Homo sapiens: one gene and its partners. The main gene of each other region encodes a partner of the protein of the gene in region 2 in a complex. Each region holds a gene or a part of one and is shown on either strand. Other genes may lie near its edges.

Region 1 (7,025 bases), on a different chromosome or scaffold from region 2:
TCAGAGGCACTCCACACTTTTCCAAGAGGGTATTGCAAAATCTGCACCATTCTTTTAAAAGGCAAAATGGTGACTTTCTGCCTGAAAACAGCCTGAAGTCCCTTGTGGTCCTCTGAGTCCACGCTTCAAAGATGTTTCTCTCCTTAGACACTAGTGTGGCATCAGAGGTCCACCAAAGGTGGATGTCTCTGCAAATACTTTCCAAATTACTTGTTGCAGGAAGCTGATTAATGCTATTTTAACAGTTAAATCTGAAAAAATAGAACCAGTGTCTTTAAATCTGTGTTGTGATTATCTCAGGTAATAGACTTGGCATTTGTACTATGAGTCTGTTGGGCACAAAATGTTCAATTGCCTGAACCCAATAAGGAATGGATTTTTCTGGCTTTTAGCCTTAACACCCAACTTTAAAAAAAAAAATGTTTACAGCATGAGCAACTAGGTGACACTCTGCTTGAAAGCAGGAGCCTAGAGGGACAGACAGCATACCACATGGTGCATGCAGCAGTTTTCAACCTGTGGTGTTGGGTTTCAATCAGGCTGGTGGGAAAAATATTAGAGATAGTTATAGAAATAGACACAAATCTTCTTGGAAGGCTGAGAAGTTTGCCTAACTTCAGTAATAGATCTGGCTGAAGGCGGCCTGATCTCTTTACCTTTAAACAAATTAAAATAGTAATAAAGAAAGGCAGAGTAGTTTACCTGGCTAGCTTGTTTACTCATATAAAGACTAACCTTTGATGTACCGTGAGTGCTTAAGTGCCTTTTACTCAGAAGTCCACAATGTCAATTTCCCTCTAATGGTGTTGACTCAAGCTTTTGTTAATTAATCTTACTGAATAAATGCGAGTCTGACTAGCTGATCAGGGCCTAGTTGCAACTGTTTACAGGACTCAGCAGGAGCCTGTAAGCGGCTGGGACCCTCAGCTGGACTGGCAGAGCAGAATATCTGTGTGTCAGCATACTTTATTTATCCGTTGCTGAATCGGGTCTGCAAGAACAGACCTCCCGCAGCTAGTGCCCCCGTGAAAGGAGCGCTGCCTCACTGTGGTGACTTACGAGGCCACTGAGACGGGAGTAGACTGAGGAAGGGATAGTAGACCAAGCAGGAATGGTTCTGGTTCACCTGAAGTTAAAAGTGTTCTTATGATACTTTCAGTTTTCTTCTATTAGACTGGGTAATCTTTAAAATATCTTTGAACGCTTAAATTCTGATTTTATGACCACTTTCATTAAGGCTCAAAATATTCTCTGTGGTGTTTCTGTACCTCTGCAGTCATGCTGGGATTTTCAAAACTCAGTTAAATGTGTGAGGCAGATTTGAGAAATAAGATATTTTATTAGAGTTTCAGGATTCCCCGACTATATAGTCCTCTTTCATCTGAATTCGACCAAGTTTCCACCACTGCTTACTCTGAGGACCAATGGCCATAGAGACAAGCCACCTAATGAAAGAATGAGCCAGCTCAAAGCCAAAGTCCTGCAAAATGCTCGGGCTTCTTTACCATACTGTTTATCATACTTTGCCATGTGATAGTTACTCTATATTTTAGTATCTAATATAATTGTTTAATAATATACTGATAGTTCTGAGCGCTGTAGAAATGTGGAATTTGCCTATTGCTTGGCCTCGAGGACTGTGGATTTTCTCATTTCTGTCACTTATATTTTATTGAATATACTTCACAATAAAGTAAAAATCTGTAATGAATGATTTAGTATGTATGCACAGTTCCTGGATGTGATGCCTAGTTCTTGATTGGTATGTACCTTTGTAATAATCTATATGGGCATTTGTAGTTTTATACTGAATGTACCACTTGTTGATGAAATTTGAAAATTTATTTTTATTTGATTTAGTTTCTTTTTTCCCCCAGCACACAGCATGCCTCTGCAATGCCATCATTGCTTTGCTGAAAGTTCCCCTTTCTTTCCAGAGATATTTTTTCCAGAAACTACAGTCTACCAGCATCAAGGTAATACAGGAAGAATACTAAGGTTAATATAGGTTTTAAAACCAGGTGTCTTCTGAAGATTATGTAGGACATAGCTACACTTCAGTGTGTTACCTTTGGTTTATTGGTTTTTTTGTTTTGTTTTGTTTTTTGAGACAGAGTCTCGCCCTGTCGCCTGGGCTGGAGTACAGTGGTGTGATTTTGGCTCACCGCAACCTCCGGGTTCAAGCGATTCTCCTGCCTCAGCCTCCCAAGGAACTGGGATTACAGGCATCCACCACCTCACGCAGCTGATTTTTTTATTTTTGGTAAAGATGGGGTTTCACCATGTTGGCTAGGCTGGTCAGGAACTCCTGACCTCAAGTGATCCACCCACCTCTGCCTCCCAAAGTGCTGGGATTACAGGCATGAGCCACTGTGCCTGGCTTACCTTTGGTTTTGATAAAACCTAGTTGTAAGCCATTTCTCTCCTTTATCAAGTGGTTTGGTGAAAGAAATGAATTTGGGAGTTAAACTCTCTCCCTTTTTAATTGTCAGTGCCAAATTCTATGAGACAGGCATTTGGGTAACTGGAGCTCTGTTGTTTGTCTCTCACCTCCAGGAATAAATTAGTGATTTATCACAGTAGCCTGCAAGGATCTTGAGCTGAGTCTATTCAGACCCAACTTATAGACCCAACTTAGAATGAATCAGATCCAGTAAACTGTCACCAGTTCTTCTTCCAAAGTACTTCTGCCTTTCAGTAACATGTTTTGAGGGGCTAACCAGTGAGTAGAATTAGTATTTTGAAATATTTAAGCCACTCACAATTCAAAAGCTATTTTTGATTCAGAAAATGAAATTGTTGGAAAAGGGAGAAAATTGTCACTTCTAAGAGATCTCCTGGATTATCCCTGTTAGTTAATGTCTTCAGTAAACTTTTACATCCATGCAAATGTTTTGATTACAAATAACAGAGCATTCCATTTCAAAATGACTGGAATAATGAGGAAGATTTGACGATCTAGATAAGAAGTCCTAAAGTAGGATGTCTCCAGGGTTGATCAGTAGTTCAACAACATTATCAAAAAGACTCAAATTTCTTCCATCTTTTCATTTAGCAAGACTTGGGCTTTCTTTAATTGATGTGTTTGGGATTTTTAATACATTTTTGAAGAAAAACTAATGAGAGGTGAAAAATGTCATTTGATTCATTTGTAGATATTGACTTTTTTTATAGCACAGTGACTTCGTTGTGTAGATAATCCTGGAACTTTAAGTTCATTTACATTTGAATTTAGTTTATTTAAAATTACGTAAGACCAAAGAGACAGCTCTTAGGTAATGAAAATTTATATAATGCCTTTCCCTACTAGAAGTGGTTCATTGTCAAAGAAATGCCTCACCACAAAAATTGGGAGAATAGTGCCTTTGCTTTTTTCTAATTCTCTATTATCCTCAAATAGAACTGAGGTTTGGGATGAAAACCACAGTGATGTTTAGAAGGAGGCACTTTAAAGGTACATCTGTCTCGTTGTCCTGGCACAGTCAGGTCCTGTGGGGGTGGGGGAGTGCACAATCGAATTTGTTAACCTGTAACCAGTGATTAGCACAGACATGTTTGTCGGAAGGAAGCTTGCTCTTGGTTGTTGGCATTTATTTGAGTGTTGGCATTCCAGCTTGCTCTGTCACCATCGCCCCGGAATCCTGCAGAGCCCATTGCTGTCCAGAATAACCAGCAGCTGGCGCTAAAGGTAGAGGGAGTGGTTCAGCACGGATCTAAACCAGGACTCTTCCGCAAAATTCAGTCTGTCTGTCTGAATGTTTCTTCCACACTGCAGAGTAAATCTGGACAAGACTACAAGGTAATTTAGAAAAGAGGCAGAATTGTGATACAGGTTTTATATGAGCTCATTGATGGAAGTTTTCCAGTGTTTTTCATGGTTAAATAGATTGCAGTTATACCTCCAAAGGGATCAGATGGACATAAATTAAAAGCCCACATTGGGGCTGTAAGGGGTTGATAAACACTTCTTTTTCTCTCCCTGAACCAGTTGATAGAGACAAAGCATCCAGGCAAAGATCAAAATATGAGTTTTATTACTGTTGGAGCTGTGGGAAAACCTAACTCCAATGCCTGGCAGCAAGGCCTTTCTAACCGTAGACCCCTGAATTGGATTTTTTCACCCAGCCTCAGTCAGTACGTATGGGAGCCTGCCCCTATAAAATTTATGGCAGGGCACAGAGGACTCAGGTGCCCAAAGCAGAAGAGAAAGAGCAAGTGCTTACCTTCCCATGTCTGGTTCCTGCCCAGAAAGTCACCCATCAGCAAGACTCACCTCCTCCCTGCTAGGTCAGTAATATTAATCTAACGAAAGGTCTCTCTTACATCAGGAGGTCCCTTCAAACGTCAGAAGTTGGAAAATAAGTGTCTCCCTAACCCACCCAATCCCTCCCCACAAAAAATACACATCTATTTAGTTTTCTCCATTTTAAGTAAATTTTATCATTAAAAAAAGTATATAGCATTTCTATAAAATGATCAGATAAAGTAAAATCTTTTTTTAAGAGTGTAACCCTAGGGATTTGCTGCCTTGGGAACTCAGGATATAGGTAAGTAATAACCTGAATTAGGCTACATTGTTAGCCAGAGCTAAGATGCTGAATCTGTGCCCATGAAATGCCAGTGTTCGAGATAAAGAATGTTCCTTGCTTTAGACATTTATTTCCGATTCCCTGGTGGTTTATCCACAGTAAATGAAGCAAGGGACCAAGTCCACAGTTGTAGCAGCGAAGTTACTCAGATGCCCAGATTGGCTGTGTCCAGGTTTATTGTGGCATAGCATGGAAGGCAGGGTATCAGTGAAGGTATAAAAAGAGAGCATTTTATTATCTTTGGTGGTTTTAGGTTAAAAAGCCAAGGGAAGGTCTGGTTCTAAACTATTATTACTTTCTTAAGCCATTACTACTTTCTTAACTATGGCAAGTTCCTCTCACTTTGGCACTCTGTCCACTCTGACACGGCTGAGCCTTCATTCTCCTCTTTTCCTCTGTTTTGACTTCTGTGCCATACAGCATGGTACCTTATGTAGCCACTCAATAATTTGTGAATGATGAAAAAATTATTTACTATATTTAGAGTATAACTGTTAAAATTGGGTATCTGCTGTCACAGAAGGTTGTAATGAGAATTTACATAATTTATCCCTGTCTGCAACTCTCTCTTCACTTTGAATTTGAAACAGTAGTAACCATGATTCTCTTTGTTACTTGCATATAATTTCTACTGTTAAGAAAATAACATTCAAACCTAGAAGCTATGGTCTTCTGCTTGTTGACCTACCTCTCAAGAGGCATTGATTAAAGTCAGGAAGCTGATATAATAAGCCGAGTAATAACATGATTACTTTGCAGTGTTATTCACAGTGAGTTTGCAGCTTAAGATGCAGCCATCCATTCAGGGTGATCAGGTTCCCTAGGCCTATTTCTGGTCCTTTTAAGGAAGTTCTTTGGTTGGCATATTCTTTAGGGAAATAAAAACTGTACAAAGGCTAAATGTGAAAAAGTACCTGTACTATAAATAATTCTAAGACCTTGAATTGGTTGGTGACGTCAGTTCATTACTATTACAGGTAAATGTCTCTGGAAAAGTGACATGATAACTGCTCCTTGAGACACAAAGCTGCAGGGCACATTTATATAATTAATTACACCACAGAAACACGCACATAAACCTAGAGTAATTTGGTCAAATACACATTAAGATCACCTTTATTTGCATTCTCAGGATAAATCTGTCTCTTGACACGTTTCATCTTGGGTACAGGTAAGAGTACGTCAGCAGGTTTTATTCTGGTCTTTGAAGAACAAAGGCATGAGTGTCTGGCTAAATGAATGAGCCTATAAATCTGTGTTTTATAACATATTGTACTTCCAGTCTGAACAAAACAGTGCTTATTAAATGAGCAATGTACAAATGGTTCAGTTAATTTGTTAAAGGAGTAAGGAATCACTACATTAAGTAATAAAAATCAGACTAACTGTTGGGGGGGAACCTAACTTAAATTTGCTTAGTGTTTTGTTCTTTTTCAGTCTCTTAGGTTTTAAACTCTCTGGAACAGGTGATTTCATCCTATTTCTTCAGAATATCTCTTCACAGTCTAAAGGAAGATAGGGATTTAGAGATGGGGTTGAGTAAGCAAGGAAGAAAGGCCAGCATGTGAAGGGGCTGTCAACGGCTCTGGGAGCTCATTCTACTCAAGTAGAGTGAGGAGCATCACTTAGTAGTTCAGAGTGTAGGCCCTGGAGGTAGTCTGCCTGTGTTCAGATTCCTACTCCGTTCACTAATCATGTGACTTTGGAGACATTACTTAACCTGTCTGCCTTAGACTCCTCATCGGTGAAGCAAGGATGATAGCAGTACCTAATTTTTTATTGTCTGCATGGTCTAAATAAGCTCTTAGAACAGGGCCTAACTCATAGTAAGCACTGAAGAAATGTTAGCCATTGTTGTTAGTTAACAATTGTTTCATTGCAGATACCCATTGACAACATGACCAATGAGATGGAGCAAAGGGTTGAACCTCATAATGATTACTTCAGTACTCAATTTCTGTTGAACTTTGCTATCCTTGGAACACACAACATTACAGTGGAATCTTCTGTGAAAGATGCCAATGGTATAGTATGGAAGACTGGTCCCAGAACTACCATATTTGTAAAATCCCTGGAAGACCCTTATTCCCAGCAAATTCGCTTACAACAGCAGCAAGCCCAGCAGCCATTACAGCAGCAGCAGCAACGCAATGCCTACACACGGTTTTAACCATGGAATGAATGCACTGCAGACTCTCAAGAGATCAATCAAATTGCCAGAAACAGTTTGGTTTTTCATATGGAATAAGTATTAAAGTTACAGTGTAGTTCATTTATTCATTGATTTTTGTAATGTAATATTCTGGAAAAAATTTTGTTTTCTTAAAAATTTTGTCTGACAGCTGGGCGTGGTTGCTCACGCCTGTAATCCCAGCACTTTGGGAGGCTGAGGTGGGCGGCTCACGAGGAGATCAAGACCATCCTGGCTAACACAGT
Region 2 (7,276 bases):
AGGAAGCAAATAAAAGTTGTAGTCACAGAAAGAATTTCCCTGAAATGTACGAAACTCACAAAACTAGGGACTGTGGGACTTGGGAAAATACAACATATACCCAATATATAATTAGGAATAGTGCTTTTCACTACAACATAAGAACTGAGCTCCTTGGAAATAATATTCCTTTGTTACATGTAACATTATACATTGTTCAGTATCTTTTATTTCCAGGGCAATAATATCATAAAATGTTACAATAGACCACCTTGCATTATTCCTTAGTGAATTATTGTTGATTTAAAGCTCCTCTCATCCTCAAATACATGAAAGTAAGTGCAATAAAAGGACTTGTGGGGGTTAAGAAACGAAGGGTTCTTTCATATTTTCCAGCAGTCTTTTTTTCCAAGGGTTTGGAGTTTAAATCAAAACTCTGGGCCTGAAATTTAATTCAGAGTTCTTCCTGCAATAGTTGTTAACTGTGTATGCTTCAAAAGAAAACTTAAATGTTCTCAGCCAGTGACTGTACTCCAGTGAAAAACTTCTTACCTTTCAGAATAGTTATACAACATGGTCACATTAAACCCTGATGCAACAAACAGATTAATTTCCTCTAACATCTTTACTAATATAGAAACGAAGAACACGAACTAGTGTCTCTAAGCCACTATAATAGTTGCACATACAACATGAGTGTGGTGTGGTAGGATGCTTTTCCTTTTAGGTCTTTACTGAACTTTCAAGGGATTAAAACCAATGTATGTCAACTTTATAGCAAAAGTTTCAGATTCTAATCCTGAATACCAATGCATTTTAGAGGGGGAAAAAATGAGGGATGTAAAATATATATAGTAGGGTAAGAGTTTTGCCTTTGAACAATGTGCATATTCTATTTTAATTTGGAATGTTTTATACTTGCATTTCATGTTATGTAGTTTTTGGACTGGACTGTGTTTTTCCACAAAATGAAAAATCAACTATTTTGCCACCTTATTATTCAACCTACCTGCCCATAGTTGTCTATGCCAGTTACTAATCTATTTAAATTTAATAAATCAAAAGCTGTCCTTAGGGATTGGCCAAGAGTCGTAAGTCCTTCAGCCTGAAGGTTTTTCAATTCATTCATAAACGTTGCATGGTTTTCTTTCCATCCAGCCTGAAAAGAAAAATGTAAGATTTTTTTTTTTCATTTTTTAAAGCCATGTACACAGAGCCGTTATAATCTGACGTTCACCAAGTAGCAGCTTCACTTTTGGTTGGTTTGGCTTGGTTAACGTGTTAATACTGTACCGCTGCTGAGGAAACTCTCTTCCAAAGGTGGCCCAGGAATAACCCAGCTTCCTCTCTAGGTTTTGGTAGTTAACTGCCTTAATACTTTATAACTTCACTGACAAATTTACTACCTAATCTAATACCCAAAATTTGGGTATGTGAAGGTACTAGTGGAAGCAGATGGGAGCCGGACTTAGGAAGTTAACCTGCAGCTGTCCCACCGGCCCTCTTAGGACGAATCTGACAAGACCAATCCTGGCAGCCCCGCATCTGGCTTCCGGGCCGGCCGGGCCGATTCCCCTTTAATGCAAACCGGGGCTGTGCGCGGCCGGGCCCGGCTGTCACTCCGGCTAACTTGAATAAATATCCCCCACAGTTCATTGCTGCCGCTCACGCCGCGGAGGGGAAATGTCGGCCATGTTGATAGCAGCGCCGCCGCCGCCGCCGCCGCCGCCGCTGCCGGGCCGGGCCGGGAGGGGACGGCGGTGGCCCCGCGACTCCGCGCCGCGCTAGGACGCTGCCGAGCGGGGGAGGGGGTGGGAGCCCGCAGGGAAGAGACCTCAGCGGCTGGGAGCGCAGCGGGTGGGGGAGGGGAGCATAATGAAGGGTGAATGGGGGGGCGGGGAGGGCGAGCGAGGAAGGAACAGGGAAGGGAAGGGAGGAAAGGGGGAGGGCGAGGGCTGTTACCTTGATAGCATAGGGCGGCTCTTCGAAAGTGACCAGCATATACCTGTCTCCTCTGCTGGCAGGGTCCCGGGCACGGAGCTGCGGGACGGGAGGAGGAACAGGGCGGGCGACAGGGAAGCACAGAGGCGAGGTTACGAGGCGGAGAAGGGGCGCCCAGCGGCCCCGCCGCCCCCACAGTACCGCACACGCAGCGGCCACCCCTCCACGCCGTCCCCCACACACAGATCGCTCCCCACACACCGCCCGGGGCCGGAGCCCGGGCCCCGGCCGAACCCGGCTCGCAGCGCCCGCCCGCCCGCGCGGTGGGGGAGGGGGTCCCCGAGCCCGGCAGCTCCCGCAGTCAGGTCCCCGACACCCCCGCCCCGGCCGCCCTCCCCCACCCTGCCGCCCGCGGGCCGCCGGGCCGGGGTCGCCGCCCGGGCTCGGTCAGTCGGTACCTTCATGAAGGTCTCTACCGCGCCTTTGGCCGTGTCCAGGTAGGTGGTGCCCAGATGGCTGCGCTGGTTCATAGAGGCAGACGTGTCTATCAGGAACAGTAAGATGGGCATAGTGCTGGCCGGGGACACCGGGGCCCGAGGTGGTGGAGAAAGAGGAGATGGTAGAGGTGGAGGCGCCGGTGGCGGCGACCGCCGCTACGCGGGGCGGGGGAGCACGGCCCCCGGGAGGAAAACACTGTCTGGGTCTTTCCTCCGGCTGCGGGGAGTTTCTCCCCCGATAGTTGAGAGGAAACTCCCCAGACCCAGTGCTCCCCGTCGTACCCCCGCCTCCGCCTCCTCCTGCCTGCCTGCCCGCTGGGGCGGGCGCCCAGCCGTCTGTCTGTCGGTTCGTCCCCCCCGCCTCGGGGGTCCCGTCCCCGCTCCCGGCCCCTGTGTGTGTCCCAGCGGGAGACGGGCCTGGCTCCCCACCCCACCCCCGGTACAGGAGTGGGGACCTGGGAGCTGGCGAAGAGGGGAGTGGGCTGAGGGAAGATTGGCCCTGGGGCTGTTGGGAGAAGTTTCAGGGACTCCCTCCGCACCCCGGCGGTGTCACCACTTTCTCAGCCCCTCTCGCTACTGAAGCGCTTTTCTCTCTCACACTCCGGTTTTAACTCGGGCAGGGGCTGCGGAGGCTCCGCCCCTGACACGTCCCCGAGCCACGTGATACACCGCCTCGCCGTTCTACTGGTCAGGCCCTATCCTTTCATTAGCATATTTAAACAGCTCAGGGGCGGGGGAAGCTTGTAGGCCGGCTCCGGGGACAGTTATTGAGCACGCGCAGAGGCGGGGCGTCGGGTGCGCGCGAGCGGGCGGGCGGGCCGACCCGGAGGCGGGCTTCGGGAAGGGGCGGGGCCGGACTGCGGAAGGACCGCGAGGTGGGGGCGGGGGCCGCGTCCGCGCGCGCGGGGCGGCCGCGGCGGTGAGCCTGCGCGTCAGGGCCGCCGGCCTCTCCTTGGCTGTTGGAGGTGATAGGGGTCGAGGGGAGGGAAAAAGGGGCTGGCGTCAGCCGCCCCTGTGAGGTGGCCGTAGCGTGGACGAGTAAGAAGGGTTGAGTAAAGTGGACAAACACCTGGTTAGGAGAAGAGGGCAGGCCCGCAGCCGCCCTCCGGAGGAGGACTCGGGGCCTCGCGGGCGCCGGAGGAGGTTCCTGGGCCTCGGAGGGCCGCCCCGGCGCGCCGCCCCGGCGCGAGCGGGCGCGGGCGGGGGAGGGGAAGTGAGAGGTTGTTTATGACCGGGGACTAATCTCCTCCGCGAGTCCCAGCGCTCCCTCTGGGGAGTGCGGTTGAGGGGCTGTCCTCGCACGGAGCCTCGCTCGGCCTCGGGGGAGCCACGAGAGGTGGGAGTTGGACCCGCAGCGGGCCAGGAGCCCTGTCATTGGAGGACCCGCCAAAAAGGAAGCAAACCCTCTTTTTCTTTATCCAACCCCAAATAGCTAGGGCCTAGGGGGAAGACTCACATATCGATAAATGGTTTGTTGCCCGTTTTATTCTCTGGGAAATACAACTGATCTTACCAAAGAAATAACCTGTCTCTTGCCGTGTTTACTTAGAGCCATAGAATACCTGTTTCAGAGCTGAAGGGGACCTGAGCCCATGATAATCCATTACCTCGTGAGAAAGCGGAAAAACTGACTTCAGCTTGCCCAGATGGCGCAGAGAATGGGTTTCCCGTAACCCCGCCTGTGTCTTTCCTTCAGCCTCGTCCCAAATGCCGTGGGAGGGAAGGCACTCTCTGTCAAGCTGCTGTCACCTTACCTGAAGTAAGGAGTCCACGCCTGCATGTCCGAGGAAAACAGTTTTCTCAAACACATTAGTTGAAAAACTGAAGACGCTGCCTAAAATACAAGCTGAGTTAGAGACAGCCCTTGTAAGACTAGGTAGGTATTTACAGGGCCTCTCCCACTAGCTTTGTTTTTCCAGAGTTTGTTCTTTATCCGGAAATTCTTAATTTGCCTACTGATCATTTAAAGAAAGGGTTCTATTAACATTGACACAGAAGAGACACTTTGTGGCACTTTTTAAAAATCTGAGTCTCGTGACTTGGTATAACTTCTGAAACTTACTGTTAATTTATAGCAGAGCTATTTGAGTAATATGCTCTTCTATGAGTATGAACAATAGAAGAAGTGTGATTTTTAAAGTGATTTGGACTACAAAATAAGAGCATGGAATATAGGCTTTACAGCCAGTACTTGCTGAGGATGTACTGTGTATTAGGTGTGGTGCATATAAAAAATAAATAAAATGTGGTCCCTGTCTTCAAAGAGCTTATGTTTTCTAGGAAAATGCTACATATTACTAGCTACTCCAAGGCAGAAAGTTGTTAGACACCAAATCAGAAAAAATAAAAATGTATTACCTTGGGGTGATGCAGGAACATTTTCCAAGGTTTCAGCTTTGCCTTAGTGTTTCTTAAACGGATCATAGATCTGAAGATAAGAATCAGAGTTCTATGGCAAAATACGAGTTATTTTACCAGTTATAAAGATGAAATTTGTCTTTCAACTTGATCATTTGCATAATTTTATACAATTGCTCTTTAGTTCTTTATATTTGTGCTTTTCAAACTGGTCTGTGGACCCCAGCCTACTGAAAACATTCTCTAGGATCATAAGAATTTATTTTAGGAGTCTGTTCATTATTCAGTTTTAAGAAACACTGTCTTAAAGGACTGGTAGGATTTGGATATGGGTAAAGGAAGGGGAAGCTGCTAGTGAAAAGATCTTCCCGACATTGAAAATGTGAAGAAAGGAAGTTAAGACAGCATTGCTGAGGGCTTCCTGAGGAACAGTGAAGTTCAGCTAGGTTGGAGCAACAGGTGCATGTAGAATAGTACAAGATCTAGAAACACAGGTGAGATCTAGACAGTAGAGGGCCTTTATTCCAATCTATGGAGGTTTTTTTTCCCCTATAAATTGGAGATTTATTTTTCAATTGCGTTGCTAAGTAGAAGCAATGTTTGAAAGAAATCAAACTAGACTACTGAAGATTAACATGCGTTCACAATGACCTTACCTATTATTACAGTTATTCGAAATCATTTTTCAGTGGAGCCATTGTCACAGGATCCTTGGAGTGTCACTTTTCCAGCTGGAAAAATGGCACCTCTGCCCGAATTTTGGTCGGGCTCATTCTGCCCACCAGTCCCAGCAGGCTGCACTCTGCTCATACTACGGCCTGGATCCCACACCTGCCAAGTGCAAGCCAGGTGCGGAGCAGCGAGGGGTGTGTGAGCGAGCAAGCATGGGGTCCGGCCACTGTATACAGCCCGGCATGCCAGCTGCAGGAGGGCGGGCAGCTCTAGGGGCTGGCCCCTTGCAAGGCTGTGGCTGGTCCAGGTGTACTGCAAGCAGCTTCCACAGCTGGCACCAGGGAATGCAGTGGCACCTGGAAGCTTGGAGATGCCAGGAGCTGCAGAGCCCCAAAGAGGTTGTCACAGGGAGCTCCTAGGTCTAGGCTTCCTAAAGGGCCACAGCTCTTCTCTCCTCTCTTCCCCCTTCTCTTTCCTTTCTTCTTCTCTTCTTCTCTCTTCTCTTGTTGTGTTGCCCACAACATGGCAAGCAAGGGGCATATTTCAGCCCGTTTGTGTTACAGCTCTTTCAGCCATGCCATTTGGCAGGTCCCGAGTTATTGTCCCACATCCAGGAAGAATGAGGTATGTGGACAAGTGGAGGGTGAGCAAGGCAAAGAGGTGCTTTGTTGAGTGACAGAACAGCTCAGAGGAGACCTGAGGGCAATGAGTAGCTTCTTTCTGCAGGCAGGTCATCCCAATAAGTGTCCAGCTCTCAGCAGAGAGGAGACCCACAATGGGTAGTTCCTCTCAGCAGGCAGGTGGTCCTGTCATCTGCTCAGCTCTCCACAGAGGAGACCCACAGTGTCCATAGACCCACAGTGGGTAGCTCCTGTCTGCAAGCAGGTCATCTCATTGTCTGCCCAAGTCTGGTTCACTCCAGGGTTTTTATGGGCTTCTGAGAGGAAGAAGTGTGTGCTGATTGGTCCATGGCGCAGCCATGGGCAGGCCTGGAGAAAGCACCATAAGTTCTCACTCCGTTGCATGGAACTGGCAGCCTGACCCCTGGCGTTACCGGGGACCCACCCCTTTCCGCCCAGGAGCCTGTGTGGATCCTGCTGCCATTAACCTGCCATCCACAGTGCCCATGGCGCCCAGGTTGTTCATGCTAAGTGGTACCTACAGGCCTTCACTGAGATGTCCTTATTCCCGCCTCGGCCTGCCTCCCTCCTGTGCTCATCAGCACCCAAAGTCCAGAGGGGACTGAGGCAGCATGGGGCTTGCGTGTCAATGCTGCCCCAAGCACGTGCACACCTGGTCGGGTCGTGACAGCACCCAGGCTTAGTCACAACTTTGCTCTGAAATCAGAGCGGGTGCTGGGAGCGGGGAGAGGCCAGGCAGTGGGAGCAGGCACTTCCAAGCCTGCGGGAGCAGGGAGCTTCCTGGTCCCCTGAGAGTGGGTCTTCTCTCTGTGGAGAGCTGAGAAGATGACGGGATGACTTGCCTGCTGAGAGGAACTACCCACTGTGGGTCTCCTCTCTGCTAAGAGCTGGACACTTATTGGGATGACTTGCCTGCAGAAAGAAGCTACCCATTGCCCTCAGGTCTCCTCTGAGCTGTTCTGTCGCTCAGCAAAGCACCTCTTTGCCTTGCTTACCCTCCACTTGTCCGGAGATGAATGGGTCCACAACCATGACTGGGTGGCTGCAGCTGCACTCAGGAGGGCAGGACTCCCACTCTTCCAACTTGGAAGCGGGCAGGGCTTCTGCCTGTTCCCAGCTCTTGCTGGCTCCATAGAGCACCGCCGCGGCTGTAGCCGTGCCTCCCCGATTATAGCCAGCGTCAGGGCA
Region 3 (7,025 bases), on a different chromosome or scaffold from region 2:
ATCAAAAAGTGGGCAAAGGACATGAACAGACACTTCTCAAAAGAAGACATTTATGCAGCCAAAAAACACATGAAAAAATGCTCACCATCACTGGCCATCAGAGAAATGCAAATGAAAACCACAATGAGATACCACCTTACACCAGTTAGAATGGCAATCATTAAAAAGTCAGGAAACAACAGGTGCTGGAGAGGATGTGGAGAAATAGGAACACTTTTACACTGTTGGTGGGACTGTAAACTAGTTCAACCATTGTGGAAGTCAGTGTGGCGATTCCTCAGGGATCTAGAACTAGAAATACCATTTGACCCAGCCATCCCATTACTGGGTATATACCCAAAGGACTATAAGTCATGCTGCTATAAAGACACATGCACACGTATGTTTATTGCGGCACTATTCACAATAGCAAAGACTTGGAACCAACCCAAATGTCCAACAATGATAGACTGGATTAAGAAAATGTGGCACATATACACCATGGAATACTATGCAGCCATAAAAAATGATGAGTTCATGTCCTTTGTAGGGACATGGACGAAATTGGAAATCATCATTCACAGTAAACTATCGCAAGAACAAAAAAACCAAACACCGCATATTCTCACTCATAGGTGGGAATTGAACAATGAGAACATATGGACACAGGAAGGGGAACATCACACTCTGGGGACTGTTGTGGGTGGGGGGAGGGGGGAGGGACAGCTTTAGGGGACATACCTAATGCTAAATGACGAGTTAATGGGTGCAGCACACCAGCATGGCACATGTATACATATGTAACTAACCTGCACATTGTGCACATGTACCCTAAAACTTAAAGTATAATAATAATAAAATTTTTAAAAAAGGAAAAAAAAAAGAAAGTCAGTTTTGCTAGATATATAGTCCTTGGCATGCATTTTCTTTCTTTGAGTATCTTAAATATGTTCTCATATTTTTTTCTAATATTAAACATTGCTATTAAAAACACTGATAAAATCTAATTTTCTTTCCTTGTAAGTCACTTGTTCTTTTCCTAGATCCCAAAGGTTTGCTTGTAGTCTAAATATTTTCCAGAATATGTCTGTTGTTCATTGTTCTGGGTCAGTATTCTCAAGTGTACACTGTGTTCTTTTAGTGTGTAGTTTCGTGTCTCTTCATTTTAGCAATTATAGTATTTAGTAATTGAATATTATGAGTGTTAATTATTATTCTCACTTGGTTTTCTGTGATGCCACATAAGATTCCCTTATGTGGCATCTTGCTTATCTGTCTTCAACATTTGTTAGGTTCTTTTGAATTGTTTAAATCTCTTCATTTCTTTTTGGTATTTTTTATTAATCTACTCTTGTGTTTCTATTACAGGTTGAGTGTCCCTTATGTGAAATACTTGGGACCAAAGTGTTTCAGACTTCAGACTTTTTCCGATTTTGGAATATTGCTGATTGAGCATCCCAAATCCAAAATCCAAAGTAATCCAGTGAGCATTTCCTTTAAGCGTCATGTTTGCCTCAAAAAGCTGCAGATTTTAGACCATTTCTGACTTCAGGTTTTCAGATTTGGGATGGTCAACATGTAGTTTAGTCTTCATTTCCAAAATGATGTTTTCTTTTATTTCTAATTCTTTATTGAGTTTTGTCACCTCATTTATAAGCTTTGCTGGTTTTTCATGTATGTACCTCTTTCACGTTTGTATAACTTTTAAATCTTTTTAGCTTATTTGAAATTCTGGTGTATTGTTGGCATGCTTTCACTCTCTATATGACATTGTATTTCTAATTTGTAACAGCTCTTTTTATTCTCTTAATCTTTTATTTTGTAGCAATCTCTTCTCATTTCTTAGCTATACTATCTTATTTTTCTAACGATAGTAAGGACAAGCTGTTCTTAAAGTTTTCTTCTACCTGCCTAATTTATTTCTTCTAATTTCCCTGCCTGCTCCTCTGCCCCCACTTGAGGCCTTTATTATTTTAGAGACTTTTCTCAAATTTATGGTAGTCCTTGGCTATTGGCTCATGTTTAAGAGTTGAACGATTAAAAAAACTAATTAGAAAGTCTATGTGCCATGGGTAGGACTTGTTCACTTCCACACTTTACCATAAAGTAATCTGATTGAGCTGTTTCTTTGTGGAATCCTCTGCGTTAGAATCTTTTCATTAATTTTTTTTCTTTGAGGCTGATCGGATTCTTCAGAGAAGATTCTTTCAGCCCCCTACCCTGAGGGGAATAAGCTTACTCATAGTGCTTTGGCAGCCAAATGAGGAGAGGAACATTGTTCCTCTGTAAATTTTTGTTTAGGAAGGCTGTCTCAGTTGATGGTTTCCCGTAGTCCAGACTTTCATTTTTACTCCCTCCAGAGAACAACCTCTGGTAGCATACCTGAGAGGAGAAGGGACATCTGCTGAGCTATATGGAAGGAATGAGGAGATCTGGAAGGTTCTAAGTATCTCGTCTCTTTTTTCAACAGTTCCTCTTGTTTTTAGGTTGATTCAACTTCCTGATACACCTGTTGTTTTCAGTTGCCATATTTTTTGTGGGTTCTGCAGTAGAAATTAAACGTTTGCATTGAACTTTCCTGGGCCTATGAAGTCAGTTATCATTTGTCTGTCTACTTTCTAAAATGCCTTGCTATTGTCTCTTCTCTCATTCTCTTTGTCTTAAGGGTGTGTGTGTGAGAGTGTGTGTGTGTGTGTGTGTGTGTGTGTGTGTGTGTGTGTGTGTGTGTGTGAGAAGCCCTGTTCAGTGTTGTTTCAGGAGAGAGAGGAGAGGCTAATGGCATGCATTCATTTCACCCCAGTACTTGGACCTGTATTGTACAGTGAATGTCAGGGAAGTTACTCTTCAGGTCTCCTGATTCTTTTGGAGCAAATGATAAAACGTTTTTCTGTTGACACATTTTGGGCGACATAGCAAGACCATGTCTCTATTTTTTTTTTTTTTTTAAAAAAAGAAATGGCTGAGCACGGTGGCTCATGCCTGTAATCCCAGCACTTTGGGAGGCCGAGTTGGGCCTATCACAAGGTCAGGAGATTGAGACCATCATGGCCAACATGGTGAAACCCCATCTCTACTAAAAATACAAAAATTAGCCGGGCATGGTGGTGGGCGCCTGTAATCCCAGCTACTTAGGAGGCTGAGGCAGGAGATTCGCTTGAACCCGGGAGGTGGAGGTTGCAGTGAGCCGAGATGGCGCCATAGCACTCCAGCCTGGTGACACAGTGAGACTCTGTCTCAAAAAAAGTAAAAATAAAAACAGAGAAATGGTCATAAAGGAATCCTATGAACAATTATATGCCAGTAAATTAAACCATTTGGATCAAATGGACAAATTACTAGAAAGGAATGCTGTAGAACATGAAGAAATGTTCACCTGGTAGTTGACATTGTGATCCATTTGCAGGCTGTTACCTTCTCCTCTCAAGGATGCAGTGGAAGTCTCAACCTGGAGAAGATGCTATACAATGCAAGAGGTGAACTCTGCCCTTAGTAAAATCCAGCTGGTGGGATATTCTCAGAAAATTGTGAGTATTCATATTACATTTCAGTTATTCATGAATGCTTTCCATTCATATTGTTGTTTGTTGTTTGGAAGAATCCTATAGTTACGTTTTTAAAGCCATTCCATTGCTGAGGATCCAGAGCCTCTGTTCTTTCCTCCGTTCCGCGCAGGATTTTATTGGTGCTCTTTCCCCACCCTCACATCTCCATCACCAGCCAGCATTCGATTGGCCAGCGTGCAGGGAGTCCGGAGAAAGGCGTCTCATCCTGTTCACATTAGATTTTATAGATTTTGGATGGGTGAAACGGGAAGAGAGAAGAGTTTGTCAAGTGTGACTTTTGAGCTCTGACCTAAATGATAAGCCTTCCCATTTCTTACTGTCATCCTGTGCCCAGAGCTACTCAGTACCGAACAACAAGGGCCTAACACCTAACTGAAAATGAAAAAGGAAAGCCAAAGTGTGTGAGTCTTTGGTCTGTTTGGTAATATTTCATCTCTCCCTTTTAATGTGTGAACCTTGAGTGCCTGGGGACATGGAAGAGAGCTGAAGCTCTCAGGTGACAAGTAAATATTATAGGATTGCTTTCTTTGTCTGCCAGTTGATCTCCATCATCTTTCTGTTTTCCTTAAAACTTTCTAGTTTACTTTATTGATTGATTGACTGAGACAAGGTCCCACTTTGTTACTCAGGCTGGAGCGCAGTGGTACAAACATGGCTCACTGCAGCCTCAACTTCCCGGGCTCCAGTGATCCTCCTGCCCCAAGTAGCTGCTTGAGGACTACAGGCATGTGCCACCATGCCCAGCTAATTTTTGTATTTTTTTGTAGAGACAGGGTTTCACCATGTTGCCCAGGCTGGTCTTGAACTCCTGGCCTCAGCCTCCCAAAGTGCTGGGATTACAGGCGTGAGCCATTGCACCCAGTCTCTGGTTTACTTTAAAATAATTTTTGTTTTTAAACTGAGGATATTTCTGTTGTTTTTCCCTGCAGAATTACCTCATGTGACTGTCACTGTAAGCTCATTGCACATTCTTACTGTGGTTCTCTTTTAGGAGCTTTTTGGTGCGGTCCAGGTGACTCCTCTGAGCTCTGGCTATGCCCTTGGGAGCTCCAACTGGATCATCCAGTCTCATTACGAGAAAGTGTCTTATGTCTCTGGATCCTCCTTGCTTACCACACACCCCCAGGTAATTCCAAATTCTCTTCTAGCAACTCAGCTTTTTGGTTACTTAAGTCAAATTCAGAATGTATCCAAGGAACCATCAGCCATTTTTAAATCTTCCAAATATGGTTTTCTACAGATACTCTCTAGCCAAGGTAGACTATTTGAGTCTCAACATTTTGACCTACAGGTTTCTCTGAAATAGTCCTGCTACCTTGAGGGTCACTCCTAGGATTCTGAAATCCCCCAGGCCTTCCAAAGACCATAGCCTGATGTGGGACACAGATGGTTATGCATTTACTCAGCAAATATTAACTGTTTAAAATCCTTCCCAAGGGCCAAGTGTCAAGTGTCATGCACACATCTGGGTATTGGGGATTCAGTGGTGACCAACGGGCAAAGCATGTGCCCGTAGATCTTATGTTGTAGGGGAGTTGATGATGTTGGGGAGAGGATGGTGTATAGTAGGTAAACAAATAAAGTGCCTGGTCATTTCCGATTGAGATACAAGTACTGAAAACAGTAAAGCAGGGTGATTTTCAGAATGATGGCCATTGGTTTAGATTGGGTGCCCAGGAAAGCCAATGGGAAGATCTCACTTGAACTGAGACCTGGAGAGATAAACCATGTCGGCTGGGCGCGGTGGCTCATACCTGTAATCCCATCATTTTGGGAGGCCGAAATGGGATAACTGCTTGAGCCTAGGAGTTCAGGACCGGCCTGGGCAATATGGCAAAACTCTGTCTCTACAAAAAATACAAAAATTACCCGGGTGTGGTGGCACACGCTGTGGTCCCAGCTACTCAGGAAGCTAAGGCAGAAGGATCGCTTGAGCCTGGGAAGCGGAGGTTGCAGTCAGCCGAGATTGCGCCACCGTACTCCAGTGCGGGTAACAGAGTGAGATTATGCCTCAAGAAAAAAAAAAAAAGGCCGGGTATGGTGGCTCATGCCTGTAATCCCAGCACTTTGGGAAGCCAAGGCGAGTGGATCACTTTAGGTCAGGAGTTCAAGACCAACCTGGCCAACATGGTGAAACCCCATCTCTACTAAAAATACAAAAATTAGGTGTGATGGTGTGCACCTATAATCCCAGCTACTTGGGAGGCTGAGGCGGGAGAATCACTTGAACTCGGGAGACAGAGGTTGCAGTGAGCTGAGATCATGCTGCTGTACCCAGCCTGGGTGACAGAGTGAGACTCCATCTCAACAAAAAAAAAAAAAAAGAGAGAGAAAGAAAAAAGAAAAACAGAGAAATTAGCCACGTAAAGCCGTGAGTGTTTGTATTACAAAGGGATGGCCAGTGAAGGGCCCCTAAAGTAAGAATAAGCTGGGCATGTTTGAAGGGCAGAGAAGGCTATTGTGGTCACAGCGTGGAGGTCAGCAGTGAGGTCCAAGAGAGTGGCAGACACCATGTCATGTAGTGTTAGCAGGCTGTGAGGAGGAATTTTGGTTTTATTTTAATATGGAGAGGGAAACTATTGGAACGTTTTAAGTTATTCATTCCAGTCATATTTGGCAAGAAGCCTAGCACATATAAACATTGTTATGAATGTGATACTTACTCCTTTTTGGTATTTGTAAATAATTTACTGTTCATTTCCTGAATGTTGGTTATTTCTATGTTTGTAATAGGGAGTGGGGGGACATTAGTTAGCTGTTGAATGGGTATATAGATACATTAGGTAACTTGTGGAAGTCCATATTACATTTGTTTATCTACATCTATTTACGGAGAGAGAGAGAGAGAGAGAAGGTCTTGTTCTGTCACCCGGACTGGAGTACAGTGGTGTAGTCATAGCTCACTGTAATCTCAAACTCCTGGGCTCAAGCAGTCCTCCCAAGTAGCTAGGACTATAGCCACCACACCTGGCCTATTTATTTTTTAACATAACCTCAAATTTTTATTGTCTTCATAATAAAACCAAAAATGAAGCTAAGAACTGGATCACTTGGCCTTTTCTCCTTTTATCCCTTCCCAGTTAAAAATACTTGTATCTCTAGTAGCCAGCATTCTCCTAGATCTGCAGTTGGGCCCAACACTTAAGCTTTAGCACAATCTCGTTTGTAGTTTTAGCCTTTTTCCAGAAGATTGGCTTGGTCTGCCTACATAGCCACCCCTTCCTGCCATTAAGCCACTTTCCCTTGGCATACAGATCATCTTTTCCCTTCTTGTACCATGTCACTCTGTGGGGTTGGTGCCAACCATGCTTCTTACACAAAGTCCAGTGGGTTTGAAGAACATTCACCATGTTAGAGCACTATCAGTAAAGAAAGAAAGAAATTATTCATTTTTTAATTACAAATAAAAATTGTATATATTTATGGTATGCATGATGTCTTGATATGTGCATGCATTATGGAATGGCTAAGTCAATAATTAAC

Evidence for each region. Proteins that work in one complex are often made in the same cells at the same time.
Region 1: INTS6 (region 2) and INTS7 share a complex: the UniProt entries of both Homo sapiens proteins name them as parts of the integrator complex.
Region 3: INTS6 (region 2) and INTS9 share a complex: the UniProt entries of both Homo sapiens proteins name them as parts of the integrator complex.

Annotation. Positions count from the first base shown.
Region 1 is NC_000001.11:211,941,558-211,948,582, reverse strand, and holds part of INTS7 (integrator complex subunit 7), read left to right. Parts: intron 1-1,877; coding exon 1,878-1,976; intron 1,977-3,613; coding exon 3,614-3,799; intron 3,800-6,471; coding exon 6,472-6,759; 3' UTR 6,760-7,025. UniProt on the Homo sapiens protein: Component of the integrator complex, a multiprotein complex that terminates RNA polymerase II (Pol II) transcription in the promoter-proximal region of genes.
Region 2 is NC_000013.11:51,450,037-51,457,312, forward strand, and holds the start of INTS6 (integrator complex subunit 6), read right to left. Parts: upstream 3,001-7,276; 5' UTR 2,490-3,000; coding exon 2,379-2,489; intron 2,020-2,378; coding exon 1,942-2,019; intron 1,139-1,941; coding exon 989-1,138; coding exon of another isoform or gene 980-988; exon of another isoform or gene 1-979. UniProt on the Homo sapiens protein: Component of the integrator complex, a multiprotein complex that terminates RNA polymerase II (Pol II) transcription in the promoter-proximal region of genes.
Region 3 is NC_000008.11:28,809,970-28,816,994, reverse strand, and holds part of INTS9 (integrator complex subunit 9), read left to right. Parts: intron 1-3,382; coding exon 3,383-3,503; intron 3,504-4,533; coding exon 4,534-4,668; intron 4,669-7,025. UniProt on the Homo sapiens protein: Component of the integrator complex, a multiprotein complex that terminates RNA polymerase II (Pol II) transcription in the promoter-proximal region of genes.